3 linked regions of the Homo sapiens genome follow. The protein of the gene in region 1 interacts with the protein of each later gene in a pairwise test. Each region holds a gene or a part of one and is shown on either strand. Other genes may lie near its edges.

The links. The genes of interacting proteins can lie anywhere in the genome.
Region 2: the proteins of KCNJ6 (region 1) and THSD7B interact in binary tests that used the Homo sapiens proteins (3 or more experiments, as listed by UniProt).
Region 3: the proteins of KCNJ6 (region 1) and AIG1 interact in binary tests that used the Homo sapiens proteins (3 or more experiments, as listed by UniProt).

What each region holds. Positions count from the first base shown.
Region 1 is NC_000021.9:37,606,837-37,612,460, forward strand, and holds the end of KCNJ6 (G protein-activated inward rectifier potassium channel 2), read right to left. Parts: 3' UTR 537-5,624; downstream 1-536. UniProt on the Homo sapiens protein: Inward rectifier potassium channels are characterized by a greater tendency to allow potassium to flow into the cell rather than out of it.
Region 2 is NC_000002.12:137,671,541-137,678,253, reverse strand, and holds the end of THSD7B (thrombospondin type-1 domain-containing protein 7B precursor), read right to left. Parts: intron 1,731-6,713; coding exon 1,649-1,730; 3' UTR 536-1,648; downstream 1-535.
Region 3 is NC_000006.12:143,336,885-143,341,593, reverse strand, and holds the end of AIG1 (androgen-induced gene 1 protein), read right to left. Parts: intron 3,617-4,709; coding exon of another isoform or gene 3,600-3,616; exon of another isoform or gene 1,956-3,599; coding exon 1,918-1,955; 3' UTR 536-1,917; downstream 1-535. UniProt on the Homo sapiens protein: Hydrolyzes bioactive fatty-acid esters of hydroxy-fatty acids (FAHFAs), but not other major classes of lipids. Show a preference for FAHFAs with branching distal from the carboxylate head group of the lipids.

The DNA.
Region 1 (5,624 bases):
ACTCTCACGGAATGTTTCTTTAGTCCAACATGGAACTTTATCATGAATGATCAAACTCCTTTTATTAAGACTCTTAGAGCTGTGACAAGGGGCAGGATCAACTGCTCTGCAAGTCCCTAATTCCCTTTCGTTTTTTTCAAGTTCCATGAAGTGCAAGGTACAAACAGGTATCAAAGGAGTCCCACTTGGGTCAGTAGGTGTGGAAAGGAGCGGAGCTGACCCATTGCTGGGATCTGGCCATAGGCAGAACATTGTGGGAGAGATGGGGAAAGAGACAGGAGGGGGAGAGCGAGAAGGAGGAAAGGGAGCAAGAGAGTTAGGGAGAGAAAGAAAGAGATGGAGAGAGAGGAAGAGTGGGAGGGAAGAAGAGAGAAGATCACTCCAAACCCATGGTACTATCCTTGGGTTATGCCTGATATGCCTGACATCTTGAGTGGCCCTGGGGCAGGGTGTTGCGCTTTGAAACAATTCATGCTCTCACTTGTAGAAAAGGCCGACTTCTTTGGACACAGACACACATAAAAAAGAAACCAAGGCCATATCAAATTTTTCTTTTATTGTTCCAGTCAAAAAAAGAGGAACACCTCAATATGTAAACAGTTTCCCTAACACAGCGAGTTCTTAAAGATATATATATATATATATATTTTTTTTTTATTTTAAAAAAATTTGGCATTGTAGTGATTTCTCAATACATAATTTGTGCTTTCGCATTGAGCATGCTTTCGTCTCATTGTCCGTGCACAGACATACTTGGAGTTGAGTAAAGGGAGTTACAAAAGGACCAAAAAATGGGACAGGAGCCAAACCAGTACTTGAGCCCTACCTGGTGTTCCTTCCTAAAAAGCATGGTGGAAAAGTTGGCAAGATTGACCTCAGAAGCAAATCTTAGTGACTTTATTCCAAAGAAATCTTAGAAGCCTTGGTAGCAACTTTTGAAAGAAGCATTTCTTGTTTTCTTTCTGTTCATCCCTAAAGGATCATTGGTTTTGCTTGGAGAAAACTTTAGTTATTTTGTATGTTATATTTCTTAATATCCCTAAGTCCCTTCTAAAATAAACTCTTGTTTTGTGATTTTGCTGGACACATGATGGTTTACAACTACATGCTATTGAAATTCCACTAGTGATTTATTCTGCTTTTTGCTGAATCATTTCAAAGTGCTTGACAGTTGTGTAAAGACCTTTTGGTTTTGTCCAGTGAAAATTATTTTTTAATTCAATACTAAAGACTTCAGAGCCTTTAAGATGCAATGATGGGTTTATCAATAATACTGTTCATGCTATTCGTTTCTTAGTCCTTGTCCTTAGCCTGAAATTCTAAGTCTCTATAAATTAGCACCAGTTTTCCAAATGCATATTTTATCAAATCCTATGATCCTAGGCTGGTCTAGGTACCATCCCCCAATCTTACCTTGTGTGTTTCTGTTTTAAGACCCTCTCCCATGCTGGCCTTGCAAACTGAAATGCCTTTGCTTTTGGATCTCTCTCTCTCTTTTTAAAATAGAGATGGGGTCTTGCTGTGTTGCACAGGCTAATCTTGAATTCCTGGGCTCAAGCAATCCTCCCACCTTGGCCTCTCAAAGTGCTGGAATTACAGGCATGAACCATTGTGCTTGCCTGCCCTTGGATCTCTGTCTCCAAAACCTAAGCAGTCTTTGAGAAATGTCAGGGCAAATGTCCCTTTCTTCCTCATGAGGCCATTTCTTACTGCTTACGCAGAAACTGATCTACTTTCTTTACATTCCAGCAAATTTGTTGTGCCTGTCCCTCTTCGTTTAGGTATTTCTAAAACTAGACTCAGTTACTTCACGTGTGAAGTGGGAAGCAGTATTTTCTCACAGGGTTTTGTGTGGTTCGATGCACTTAGCGCAGTGTTGTTGCATGGTAAGGGCTGGCAGCCATGGGATTACAGGCTTGTTGAGGACAGTGGGGGATGTTACTTTTTCTCAGAGTCTTCATAGTAACTTGTCAAGGACATCACTCACTGTACTGCAAGTGTTCACTGAGTGCTCATGGCCAGCACTCAGGCAAGTGAATACACATTTGGAGTAATAAAATATGGGGCATCAGCTAACTTTCAGAATATTTTGAGTGGAGTTTTGTCCTTGTCTAGTTTTAGTTGCCTGTTGGGATCCCTGAGTATAAAAATACAAGTGTGTGCCTGCTCCCAGCATTGACGAGCTTCATGAACCTTGAAAATGGAACACTTTATTTCTCTGTAGGATGTGAGCATTTGATAAAGAACTCAAGTTCCTGAAAAAATTTCTGGAGACAAAGTTGAGGATCAAGTATCATCTGTGCTTCATTTCTTTTGGGAAGATGTGCGTTCTCTAGGTGTGGATATTGGAGTTGGCACACTGACATGCACCCTAATGACCCTCAGCTTGGGGACCCAATTCTGACACCTGCTGGGCTTTGCTTTCTTTGCTTAACTAGTTCTTGAAAATTCTGTGTGATGGTGAGAATAAGAAGTTCCAGGTACATAGAAACATGAATGTCCACAAACATGCAACCCCCAAACTAGATGCAGTCTTATCTTCAATCGCATAGATTCAAAATTAAAGAGACTATTGAAACCTTGGCACTGCTAGAGACTTTTGAACTAATAGCTTTCTGGAATAATTTTCTATCCTAAGAAATAGCTCACAGAACAACCCTATATTTTACTGGGCCATAGTAAACATTTTGGGCCTTAATATAATGCCATTTTATTAGGAAAGACAAATACAATGAATTATCTTATGATTAATAATGAAAAGTGGCCACTATTTTCCATTACTGGTATATAACTAAAATAAAGCAGTAGTGCTACGGTTAAAATAAATCAGCTTAATTAAAATATTATGGTTTAAGCTTTTTGCCTCCTTAATTATCCTGTCTGGTTTAGTTTTTGTTTTGTTTTTCTGACTGGGGCCCTAGGTGCATGCTTTAGGGAGGGTAGAGCTGGATTTGGGTTAAAAGCAAATTGTCAGTAGCCTGCTGGAGCTGAAGGAATTGCTCATGGATGAGCTGGCGAGATGCAGCCTCACATTTATTTTCTATCAATGATGCTGACCTTCCTTGGACATTTTTCTACTGCAGAGAAGACCACAGTGCATGTCCAGTAGCACCTCATTTATCTAGAAGGCACCTACCTCACAGCTCATCTCTCTGCTACCGGGTTTAGTGGTGGTAATGACAGGGGAGCAGGACGTGGTCGGTGGGTGCTGTTGGAGACAAGTGTGTGGCTGGTAGTTAATTTCCCTGCTGCCAGCAAGGGAATCAGTTAAATGATGAAAACAGCTGAGACTTAAAGCTGAACCATCTGGGGTCATTTAGTGTAGAGGTACAGTCTAGAACTGATGGTGGTGTAGGTTGGAATGGATACTAGAATTATTAAAGCAGAGACTATGGGGTTCAAATGTTTGTTGAAAAAGATGAGGAAACTACAGCAGATTAGTCTTTTTGCTTAAGCTTGCATGGAATGTTCATCAAGTTAGACTGCATTCTGGGTCATAAAACATACCTTAACACATTTAAAAGAATAGAAATTCTCAGATCACTTGGGATCAGGAGTTCAAGACCAGCCTGGCCAACATGCTGAAACCCCATCTCTATTAAAAATACAAAAATTAGCCAGGTTTGGTGGTGGGCACCTGTAGTCCCAACTACTTGGGAGGCTGAGGCAGGAGAATCGCTTGAACCCCGGAGGCAGAGGTTGCAGTGAGCCAAGATCATGCCACTCTACTCCAGCCTGGGCAACAGAGTGAGACTCTGTCTTAAAAAAAAAAAAAAAAAAAAAAGGAATACAAGTCCTACAATGTTTGCTCTTAGATAACAATGGAATTAAGCTAGAAATCAGTAACAGAAAGGTAGCTGGAAAATGCCAAAATACTTGGAGATTAAACAACACACGTGTAAATATCATGGGTCAAAGAAGAAATCTCAAGATAAGTGAAAAAATATTTTGAAATAAATGAAAATAAAAACATAGCTTATTATAATTTGTGGGATGCAATAAAAACAATGCTTAAAGGGAAATTTATAACATTGAATGCAGATAGCACAAAAGAAGATCTGAAATCAATCATTTAAGTTTCCATTTTAAAAAAGTAGAAAAAAAGAGCAAATTAAACCCAAAGTAAGCCAATGAGAAGAAATAATTAAAATTAGATTAAAAATTCACGAAATTGAAAATAGGAAATCAATAAAATAAATAGAAACAAAGTTGATTCTTTGAAAAGATCAATAAGCTCCATAAGTCTCAAGGCATGCTAACTAAGAAAAAAAGAGAAAGAACACAAATTACTACTATCAGAAATGAGAGCGGGGACGTTACTAGCAATCCCATGGAGGTTAAAAGGATAATAAAAGATAATGAAGGAATTTTATGAATGACTTTATACCCACAAATTTGATAATGTAGATGAAATGAACCAATTCCTTGAAAAATAGAATTTGTCAAAACTCACACAAGAGCAAATAGACAATCTGAATAGGTATATCTCTGTTAAATAATTTGAATCAATGGTTAGTAACCTCCCCAACCAGAAAGCACTTGGCCCAGATGGGTTCACTGGTGAATTCTACCAAAGACTTAAGGAAGAAATGATACTGATTATCTACAATCTCTTTCAAAAGCTAGAAGCAGAGAGAACACTTGCTAACTCATTCTATGAATCCAGCATCACCTTAATACCAAAACCAGACAAAGACATTACAAGAAAACTACAGACCAATACCTGTCATAAGCATAGATGCAGAAATCCTCAACAAAATATTAGCAAATCAAGTCCAACAATATATGAAAATAATTAAACACCATGACCAGGTGGAATTTGTCCTAGGTATATAAGGCTGGTTCAACATTCAAAGATCAACTAATGTAATGAATATCAACAGGCAAAAGAAGAAAAATTGCATGATCATATCAACAGATGCAGAAAAATCCAAACAGTCTTTCATGATAAAAACACTCAGTAAAGCAGGAATAGAGGAGAAGCCCCTCAACCTGATAAACAATATCTAAAAAAAAAACCTTACAGCTAACATCATACTAAATGGCGTGATGGTGAGAAACCTGAAGCTGTCTCACTAAGATCAGGAAAAAAAAGGTGTCCCCATCACTACTGCTTTTCAACATGATACTGGAAGTCCTGGCTGATGCAATAAGACAAGGAAAGGAAATAAAAATATATAGATTGGGAAGAAAGAAGAAATAAAACTTTGTCTTTGTTTACAGATGACATGATCATCTATGTAGAAAATCTGAAATAACTGACCAAAAAACAAAACAAAAACAAGCCCCAGAACCTTCCTGGAACTAATAAGGGATTATAGCAAGATTTTAGGATTCAAAGTTAATATACAAAGTCAATTGTTTTCCTATATACCGGCAATGAATAAGTGAAATTTGAAATTAAAAGCACATGATTATTTAAATTAGTATCCCTTGAAATGAAGTACTTAAGGTATAAATCTAACAATATGTATAAGATCTACATGAGGAAAACTACAAAACTGGTGAATGATATCAAAGAAGAACTAAGTAAATACAGAGATATTCCATTTCATGGAGGGACTCAATATTGTCAAGATGTCACTTCCCAGCTTCCTCTGTAGATTAAATACAATCCCAATAAA
Region 2 (6,713 bases), on another chromosome or scaffold:
GGCTACTGATGCTTTAGCTAAAGTGAACTTTTGAAAGCACAATTCTGGGAATTGTTTTCTCAAGTATACTAGTAAAATAAAGTAAAGTATTCTCTTTTTGCTTTCTTATTTTAAAATTATGGTATATCATTGCACACAATCAGCTAGTTGGAGGGCTTACCTAGGTGTTAAATGGTTAATAGAGGTTACAGTGTAAATGAAAACATCCTTTAATCTGGTCGTTGTGTCACATTTCTAACATTTCCATTTTCTTCCTTCTCTCACATCATTTACATATCAGTGTTTGCATGATTACAGCGGTTTTTTCTAATATTATTTGAGCTCTAAATGTTCCCTAAAAGCTACTCTATGTCATTGTGACTGGCGCTGTTTCCTAGTATGCCTGATAGTGTGGAGGGGTAAGATTCCTTTTTTTGTTTTTGTCAGTGATAGCAGCTGTCAACCCCCAAAACACTGAAAAACTGATATTAATACTGTTTTTGTCAAAGCAAGGGCAAGGCACTTCAGAAGTGAATAAATCTAGAACAGCCAACACTGCAGTCTCTTGAGCAGTTTATTTGTTATAAATACAAGTCAATACCACAAGATGGCACCTTTTTACTTTCAACACCTATGATTACAAACAATTATCTTCATAAAATGGTCTCAGCTTTTTAATGTGTTGTTTTAGATATTATTGAAACCTTATAAAAGCAAGACTTTGTACAAACAGGATCGGTGTTTGATGTATATTAAATGAGGTCAGATAATTAAATTTGAAAGAAGAATTTATAAATATTCAGATAAGAAAATTGAAATTACAAAAGCAGAGTTTGTCATCATTAAACTGAATTACAACTGTGTGTGGTTAATGCTATATCTACATGGATAAGTTTTTGTTAAAATACAGTTTTAGTAATCAAATAATCTACCTCATTCTCCAATTTAACCACATATTTCATTTGTACACTCTAACATTCAGTACACATTCCCTTCAGAAATGACCTAGCTTTCATCTAGTCCAGCAATTACACACACGCTGCTATTTTCAGTAGCTGCAACCCATGAAGCGCCATCATCCCCTGGCTACAAAACAAAATACAATATTTAAAGGTTAAAAACTCAGAGAATTTCTGAAATGGTAATCCATTCTCTCTGTGTTCATGAAAAATAGGCAATCCAATTTGAAAGTCTTTAAACCAAAGTAAACTCTAGAAAACTCAGTGTTGAAGTATGGGAAGAATAAAGACTTTGCACTAATATAGTGCGTAACAATGCAGTGTCAGACTCGTCATTTAGAGTAAATGCCTTGACTGTATTTTCCTCTGGATTGTCATTATGCTGCTGAAGATCAAGTTTACTCAAGTCTGTGGGAATTCCATCATGTTTTCTTCCTCCCAGTTCCAAACAGGAAGAGAAGGGTTTTCAGGTCCCTTGGGAAAACCAAAAAAATAAAACACACCCACAAACAACTTGAAAACAAAATGGCAGACCTAATAATCCTTGACTCCATGTCCAAATGAAGTTGAGGCAATATTACTTTTGCAATATTTGTATTCTGCCCAATATATCACATCTTGAGATTCCTCAAAAAACTGAGAAGTCTGAGAGCTACAAAAGAGAAAGCGGTTAAGGCAGTTGATGTCTACATTTGGATTTCTTTTTCAGATTACATGTCTAAGTCTCCATCGTAGGCTAAGGTCAGAGGCTTCTGTTGGGGAGGTGTGCTTTGATGTGGTTTTGGCTTCTTGCTGCAAAGGGAAAAAAATTCCTCAGATCAAGTAAGTTCATAGAGCTCTGTTTCATCTGCCAAAGACAATTTTGAGATACAGAAATTTAAGCGGTAAAATGACAAAAAGATTCATTTCTCTAGATGTGTGGGTTCCCTTTTGTGAATATTGAATGCTTTCACCCTCTGTTTGTTAAGGAGAAGCCATCATTTTTCACAATCTTAAAATTGGTTTAGTGGAATGAAGGAACTTAGTAGAAGAGTTGTTTTCCTTTTATATTCTTGATGATACACAACAACAGGAACGTCTTTTCTCACTAATTTTTAAGCTATTGTGACCTTCACATCACAGATGCTCAACATCATAAGCAGCTGGAGCAGCCAGGCCTCACCCTGCTGGTCTTGTTTTTAAGTAAACACACTTCTGCTCTGACCTGGAACCTGACATTTAGCTGCCAAGATGCCAGAGTGTGTCAGGAAAATTTAACCAATTCTACTCCGTGCAAAGCCATTCTCACCTGGTCTCTGCTTTACCTGAAGTCCACAACTTTGCCAGGTCAGAGAAGGCTGCTTTTCCTTCTCATGGAGAGAAAAGCTTAAGTTAACAACATTCCCAAATCACACAGTGATGCCCAAGATATGGGGCAAAACACCCTGCAGTACACTTCTTGTTTCTTAGTATGGGGAAATCTTAACTTGTATTTATAAATGCTTGTAACCTTTAATTCTGCCACTTAACTTCTCTCACCACCACACTTATCCTCTCTCCTCAAGGTCTTTGCTTTGCCCTGCCCACACAGCCCGGCTTCATCTCTCTCCCTGTCTCCAACCTTCCATGCTTTTATATTATATTAGCATCTATTGCTTATTCGATGCATACTAAGTGCCAAGATCTGTGCTGAATGTTTTACACAAAATCTCTCAAAACATCCCAGAACAACCCTGCAAGGGAGGCATTAGAATTATTGCTACTTTACAGAGAAGGACTACCAAGGCTGTTTACCTTCCCTTAGGTCACTGAGTGAGTGGCAGAACCTGAATTCTAAGCAAATCTAACACACAGACCTGAGCTTTTAACCTTTTCACCACACTGTCCGCATATATATATATATATATATATATATATATATATATATATATATGGCATTCATTTAGCACTTGGTAGAAATGACATTTTTTGTCTGCACATATGAATTAATTTTTGTATTCTGAGTGAATCTAACGTAAAAAACAAAGATTTTAATCTATACAATTCAGTGGCATTTGGCAGTCACAGCATGTGTACCATCACCATTATCTAGCTCCAGAACATTTTCATCGTGCCAAAAGGCAACTCTGCACTCTTCCAAGCAGTCCCTCCCCCATTTCACCCTGCTCTCAGCCCCTGGTAGCCATTCATCAATTAACTTTCTGCCCAAATAGATTTTGATATCTTAAATGGAATCATGCTGTATCTGGTCTATTGTGTCTGGCTTCTTACACTTAATGGCTAAAATTGTGAATTTTATGTTATGTGAATTTTACTGCAATAAAAAGTTGATAAAATTAAAATGGTTGTAGGGAGAAACTCCTAGTTTAAAATGCTCAAGTTTTAATTTGAGGAGTAAAATTATTTTTTTGATTGATGTTTGAAGCAAATCATACAAGTTAAAGAAATAAATTAAAAATGGTTTTGGCAGAAACCCTAAAAGGAACTGCAGATTCTCTCAGTGCCCCCCACCCTAGCACCTGGCATGCAGCGGGTGCTCATTGAGAATATGCTGAGTGCTGGGCAGAGATGGCTGCAGGCAAACAACTTCCAACCAGAGAAGCTGCGGAGATGCAAAAACAAGATTCAGAATATTCTCCAGAGGGAGCTTCAGCCTTCAATTTCCTGCTTTCCAGGTCCTCTCCAATTTTCAAAAGGGTATTGCTTAATTATCTGAATAACATTCAATTTAACTTTATCTATACTAAGTATGTTCCAGTGACTCTAATTATACTGATGGGCTCAGGCTCTGGCATGAACCCCACTTGACATGGAGTCCTGGGTATACCATTCCACAGCATTTAAAGGTGCTAAGAAATCATGCACACACCAGAGGGTGAGGCAATCTGAAAGTGACAGCCTGTAAAACCTGATGGTGGTGGTGGTGATGGGGTGGGTTGTCTTAATGGCAAAAAAGAGTACAAGGAAGTTCATCTGAAATTACAGTAGGAGTCTTCTCCCTCCCACCTCTCTTGGTTTTCTTTTTTCTGCGGGAAGGGAGCAAAGAAGAAGAGAGGGGTAAGAAATGTAGTTGCTTCCAAAACAGAGATTTTGGCAGTCTACCTTTAATGGGCATTTGCTAAAGGCCACTGGGCAAGGAGAAATTAGACAATCCTAAGCATTGGGGAGTTGAGAATGCAAAGCCAGGAGAACGGCTAGAGGTGGTCATATCTCTATAAAGAGACAATACTATCACCTGGGAGACACGTCAACTTGGCCAGCCTCTATGATCTAGGCTTGGAATATTCTATTCAAAATTTACACAAATATGTTTATACCACTTACCATGTTTGGAATCACGGACACTGTGGCCAGCGGGGGCTACTAATAGGTAGGCCTTGGACCTTTGTGGGCCATGTGGTGTGCTGGGGATCATTGGGATTAGGACCTCATTTATCAAGCATCTTTTCATATTGTGCAACCTCCCAATTGCCAGACACCAAAATCACAGTTACGAATACATGAGATCTGAGAAGTTTTATGGCTTTGAATAGATCAGCCTCCTCTCAAATATTAATCTCTGGACCACTGAACATGGTAGTACTTTGCCGAATAGCAGCTTAGCAAGGCTTTCTGGCCAGTAAAAAAGAACCTCAGGAGGAGGAGCTGAGGGGCAAGACTGCACTCAGCAAGGCCAACACTGAGGAGGCCAGCAACTAGGAGGCTTGTCTTTAGAACCTCTGGCTTGCTTTCCTTTCTCCCTACAGTATCCACATTTTTCCTTTAGAAGTAAGTTTATTTCTTATTTTTTCCTCCTCCACTCTGGTTTCAGAAAAGGTATGTTCACCTCCCTCACTCACTAAATCAGGACCCATAAATGCCTGGCACATATGCCACCAACACCACCAGTCATCCTGTGCCCAGGTGGACATCTCTAATCCATCACTCTATTCTCTCCTGTTGAGCTGAGGTGTAGCCTCATCATTCTTCCTAACAGCACTCTTGACAGCCATAGCCACTTTTAGAGTTGGCACACAGCATAAAACCATTTTGCAATCCTAGCTGTGAAAGATCACTGGCAGACACATTTTAAAGTTACCTCTTTTAGGGTCATTTGCATTTTAGCAAAGGACAAAAATGAATTAAGCCAGAAAAGTGAGCTCATTGTGGACTGACAAGCAAGCCTCTGGCACTTCTCAGCAAGGACTCATTCTCAAGCCAGGAGAGATTAACTAGTTTGATGAAAGCAGCAAACCACATTTTGTTTTGGCAGCCATTTGTGAGAGACAAGCCTTTGGAGGTGCAAGTACCACTCTCAAACTTGGGAAGAATAAGAATGCATTACAGAACTGTGCTGGGCCAGGCAGAATGGACATTATTATCTGGTGTAACTTCCAGGTGCTACATCTAGGTTAACAGCAAGTTCATCCAGTGGTCATCCCCATTAAATTGCTTCATGGATATTTACTGCCAGAGGAGAAGGGGCATCAATAATATTTCTGAAACTCCAAACACTAATGGTAGATGTTCAAAGGCTAGTATTTGAAAGAAGTAGTCTTTAGAAGGCTATTTTTTTGACATTTTCTCAGAAGCATTTTCAAGTTTTACTATAAATTGCTTTCATCTGAAGTATACACCAAAGACCTGGCATATTATAGCAGTTCTCTTGTCCTAAGGCTTCTGTTTTTGGCAAAAATATAAAATCTCTAAAACTGTCATCCTGTAACTCTTCTGCAATCCATTTAATAGAATTAGATGCTGTGAAAATATCTATTTGGGTTTCTTTGGCGGCTCATATGTAACAGTAAAAGGTACGTGTTTTTATAACAATAGGTCTGTAATAGGTCAACAGCTTACTTTACCTGTGAAACAAAAATCCTCTAGGAAATGTGGAAGCTATAGACATTATGTTGAGTCTAAAGAGTTTTGGGCATCACTCAAGAGAAAGAAATCACAATGACTCAAAGACCAGTAGAAAGAGCATGAACTCTAGGGATAGGCAAACTCTAGGGAGAGGCAAACCTGGGGTTGATTCTACCATGCTGGTGACCTCAGAAAAGTTATATAATTTCACTACGGATCAATTACTCTTTAAAATAGGGATGGCAATAGCAACACCTCCTTGAATTATTATGATTGAATAAGGCAATGTATGTAATATTTGACATATAAATATTAGATTTTTTTTCCTATACTGTTTTTCTAAAAATCACGGGCAATAAATTAGTTTATACTAATACATTTTATATATTTGCTCAATAAATCTTTATCAAATTCATGCTTTAAAACAATCCATAAAGCATAGTCATTACCTCTCCCCACCCAAACTCCCTGGAGTTTGATAGAGGAGGAAGATGTTTATATAAATAACTACAATATTATCAATCATGGGGTAACTACCACGACAAAAGAGACATGAACAAGTTATTCCAGACTGTTTAAAAAGGAAAATGTTGGTATTTGAGTTTTACAGGGATTAATGAACAGGTAGAGTACCAATAGCTAGCAAGGGGAAACAAGGAGTAAGCCACAGAAGCAGAAACGTCCTTGGAAAATTAGAGGGGCAGTACCCTAAGTGCCTGATACGGTTAGGCTTTGTTTCTCCACCTAAATCTCATCTTGAGTTGTAATCCCTATAAACCCCATAATCCCCACATGTGAAGAGAGAAACTAGGTGGAGGTAACTGAATCATCGCTTCCCCCATGGTGTTCTCATGATAGCGAGTGAGTTGTCAAAAGATGTGATGGTTTTATAAGGGGCTTTTTCCCCTACTCTCAGCACTCAATCCATTCTGCTGCTCTGTGAAGAAGGTGCCT
Region 3 (4,709 bases), on another chromosome or scaffold:
TCACATGGTCTTTCCTCTGTGTATGTACATTCCTGGTGTCCCTTTGTGTGTCCTAATTCCCCCTTTTTACAAAGATACTACTCAGATTGGATTAGGGCCCATTTTAATGGCCTCATTTTAACTTAATCCCCTCTTTAAAGGCCCTGTCTCCAAAAACAGTCATATTCTAAGGCACTAGGGGTTACGGGTTCAACATATAAATTTTAGGGGGACACAGTGCCACAATGTAACCCATAATAGAGGTCAGACAGGTAAGATACATGTAGTTGTGATGGAAACCAACTCTGGATCCTTCAAGTCTTTGATCCTGTACTAACTGCAGCAGTCATTCCAAGGATGTGGTATTGCTGTGCTTTTCTGTTTTGGTGGATTTCTGCTTGACTTTCCTACTTAAAAGTCCCAGCTCCATGAGTTAGGAAACTAATATGGTAATGCTGCTAGATGCATTCTATATTTCTATCAATTTTGCTTTCAGAAATGGGGGGCATATAGAGTGAATGTGTGTGGGAGAAAGAGAGAGACAGAGAGACGGAAGGAAGAGAGATTTTTAGCATTTAATTACATTTAAATGTAACTAATTTTAAATTAACTTTTTGAGTTTAAATTTTTTTCAAATTAAAAAGTTTAATGCTTTTCATTTTTTAATTTTAAAATGTAATTATAATTTTGGAGTGAATGGTTTTATATCATTTGTTGATCTCTCTCAACATTGGGCAATCAATACTTATATTTGTGTTAAGTAACATTTTATAATTTATATAACATATTTTTCATCTTAAAAATAATTACGGTCAAAGATTTTGTAAAATAGTTTTTTTAAAAACAATTTTGTGGCTGGGCGCGGTGGTTCATGTCTGTAATCCCAGCACTTTGGGAGGCCGAGGCGTGTGGATCACAAGGTCAGGAGATCGAGACCATCCTGGCTAACAAGGTGAAACCCCGTCTCTACTAAAAATACAAAAAATAAGCCGGGCGTGTGGCAGGCGCCTGTAGTCCCAGCTACTCGGGAGGCTGAGAAGGCAGGAGAATGGCATGAACCCGGGAAGCGGAGCTTGCCGTGAGCTGAGATCACGCCACTGTACTCCAGCCTGGGCGACAGAGTGAGACTCCATCTGGAAAAAAAGAAAAAAAAAATTTGTTTTGGAGTTATCAAAAAGATTCACATTTTTTAAAATCCAAAAATTATAGGAAAGAACCAGGTTCAGTAAACCCATTTTCAACAGGTAATAAAAATGAAAAGGAGATACTAATGCTGTTAGGATTTTGAGATGCACAATGCAGACGTCAGGTTCAGGGTGGCTTTGTCTTTATTAGTCAGCATTTGCATCTAGGAAAAGTTTCACATGATTAAATCAAGAGATGCAATACACTCAGGCTTTTCATGAAATTGACATCATTATTACAAATGGTGCTCATTTGAGGCAACTGTGACATTATGCAATGAGAAACATCTGTCCCCTTCCCTCTCAGGTCCCCATGGTGGCCTAGGTTCATGATTACAGCCACCTTTAGGATTAAATACACAAAAGCCTTACTCTATATATGCCCCTTTGACTTTAACATATTTCTCAAAAAGAAGTGCAATAAACTTTTATTCTTTCTTGATTAGATGGAGTTACAATTGCCAAAATAAAAATCCAAGGTCCAATTCTGGTTTTAAAACTAGAAAAGGAAAAAATGTTATTATCAGTAATGACTTTGGGAAGAATTCTTTAACACACAGTGAGGGTGAGTTCTTTTGGAAACAACTGTATTCTATGTTTATACATATTTATATATAAAAGGTGTCCTCATTGGGGGAGGGGGGTGCTGATGCCACCAAGTTCCTTTGAAGCCTTTTCTCCCCCACTGCCAATGCCCGAGGGGAAGGAGTCTTCAATGGCGGCTCAATCTAGCTCTTGCGTTTAGACTTGGATCTCATTCCAATTTAGGCTTTTCTTTCTCTTCTTCCATACCTAGAAATACAGGCAAAGTGTTTTATTTGAGCATCAGATTAAACCACAAGCAGTTTGTTTAATCTGGCTTGCTAACACTACTCACACATCCACTCATCTGCCCTCACTTCTCCCATTCACCCTCCTGACACACCCCCTATTCCCTCCTAGCTAAGAAGGAAAGCCATGCACAACTTTCTCCAGAAACATCCTCAGTGACCTCTCTTCCCCACCCTTTCCACAGAATCAGGACACAGCATCTCTGGGACACACCCAGCTCCTATGGCCTCTGGGAGACAAGGCTTCAAGTTGATTCATGACTTGCTGAGTTTGCATGGAAATCCCAGCTAGACTGCTTTTTAAACCAGCTTCTGGCAACATGAGGTGTGCAACTCATGAGTTTCAAACAGACTTCATTTATTTTTACTTTAGTCCTGTCTCTTCCTAAGGCAAGGACTTTGGATTTTAAAAAGCCATGCTTTTTTTTTTCTTGTTTTCTTTTTAAAGTTCATAGAGAGTTTATTAGCCATAAGAGCTGTTTATTTCCATACTCATGAATCTTAAACTGCAATTCTCTCTCTATTCAACCCAATCCTGGTAGAATCATGTTTTTCTTCCTGAAGGACTTGTATGTACTGGACCAGTAAGAACCTTTGCCTGTTGTCTGTAGAGAATAGTCGATGATGTTTCATGTTCCTGAAGATGAAAATGTTCATCATTTTTAGGAATTATAGTTAAATCTGGCAAGTGCTTCTTGCTTTTTTCTTTTTCTTGTACCTAAACATTTTTTGAATCATACCAAATTCTCAGTTTCTTTGTTTCAATAGCAAAAATGAAACAAAATAACTTAAAATACCACTTTGCAGGTTTTGTTAGTATTCTTTCATAAATTGCAAGCTTTCTGAGGGTAGGGCCCTTCCCTATTTTGTTCCCCAGCACCTAACATAGTGTGTGTGTCTCATTGCAGGAGCTCAATTAATCTTTGCTGAATAAAATTAATAAGCAATGAACACAGAGAAGACCTCAGAAGCCTGGACTAGTGGAAAGCAGAACAAAATATGGGACTCCACAATATGAAAATTATAAAATTTAACCCCAGAGGGTCATAATGTTAGGGCTTACAATAGGAAGGACTCCCCCACCACATAACCCCAGCTCCTGGTATATGTTTTGTGCTGTCAGAGTAGTGGTGGTGGAATGTGGGTAACGTGCTCTGAATGAATGTCCCCAGATGATCTTTTATGTTTGGTTTTCATGGCTAAGGAACTGGCAGAGATCTGGAGCACTTTTTCCAAAGTCCTTCTCAGAAATCCTATGAAGGAAAACTTCAAATTGAGGAGTAAGGACATCTGACGGGAGGAGGAACAGGTTTGAAGGCAAGAAGGTACAACACGCCTTCGTTGTTGGGTAACCACGGAAAGAAGAAAACAGCACAGATTCAGCTCAAACAGCACATGTGTCTTGAACCTCAGCTCTGTCCATATTCCCTCTCCTGTGGAGAAGCTATCAGGGGCTAAGAGCAGTTTGCTTTTCTTTTTAAAGTCTGTTTTTTCCAAAGCGTTCTCCTGCAGATGGGTTGACTTGGCAGCAGTGCTGGAATCTTCAAAAGCGCGGGTGGAGAACGGGGGGTATTCATTGACCTAGAGAGGGAAAATGGCTTCCCACCTACTTTAGTTTGGCAGCTGTGAGGTAGACAGAAAAAATTAGACAGCTGTAAATAATGTTTGCAAGAACCAGAGATAAAATTTCCAGGCAAAGGGCAGGAAGAAACCTATCGCAAAGCGAAGGCAGGATACACTTTTGGGACCAGAGGGGACAAGACTGCAGGGCGCTGAGGGAGTCAGTCACATGCCCTTCCTGCAGGCCGGTGGAGGGCTCCACCAGGGGGCAGTGCTGGGACATCGCTAGACCTGGATGGGCCTGGGGGGAAATGACCTGCACGGGTAGCTGGAGGAGAAGAGGTGCAGGTTTCTGCACACATAGACGTCTCCTGTCTCCCCGCTTGCCTACTTTCTCTGTCCTCACACCAACCTTTTGGTTTTGAAAAGACTCATTTCTGGTCTTACAAAATGTAGCTTTAGTAAGACTGGTCAGATATACCAAAATTGGGATAAAGTCTTAGCTTAAGTAAAGAAATATTTCAGCTGTGAATTGTGTCCCCCCCCGCGCTCCACCCCGCCAAACTGCTACATCGAAGTGCTTAACTCTCAGTACCTCAGATTGGGAGAGAATGCCAAGGGTGTGGCTGGACAGCCATGTGCTAACGAAATTAGGTACGTGACTCACGGATCCAATCAACCTCCACAGTAGATGCCAGAAATAGAGAGGTGGTTATCTGAAAAAGATCCGCGGAGTGCCCTCTTGTCTGACTGCTTGGACCCCCATGACTTGCATGGGAGGCCAATAAGGTTTTTGAGAATTTTATACCAGCAGAAACATTGACAGCATGGACTGAAAGGGACAGAGACAGGATGAAATGAAGGACCAATGGCTTCAAAGATGGTTCAGCGACTGGCTCCTCCTTGGTTGTAGAGGGTAGAACTATTGCCCAGGGCTGTGGGGGTGGGGCTCCTGTGACCCTGTGCCTGGAAGGCAGGGCTATGCATCCCCTCCCCTGTGAGCCCTGAGGACAGAACATCTAGCCAAAGAGGATTATTTTCAAGCCTTAAAATGGAATGGAATTTCCCCCGCTAGCTTCAGACTTGCTTGGGAACCATGATTCTTTCTTTTTTTTTCCCCCTGCAACTTCTCCCTTACAGAATGGGAATGTATATT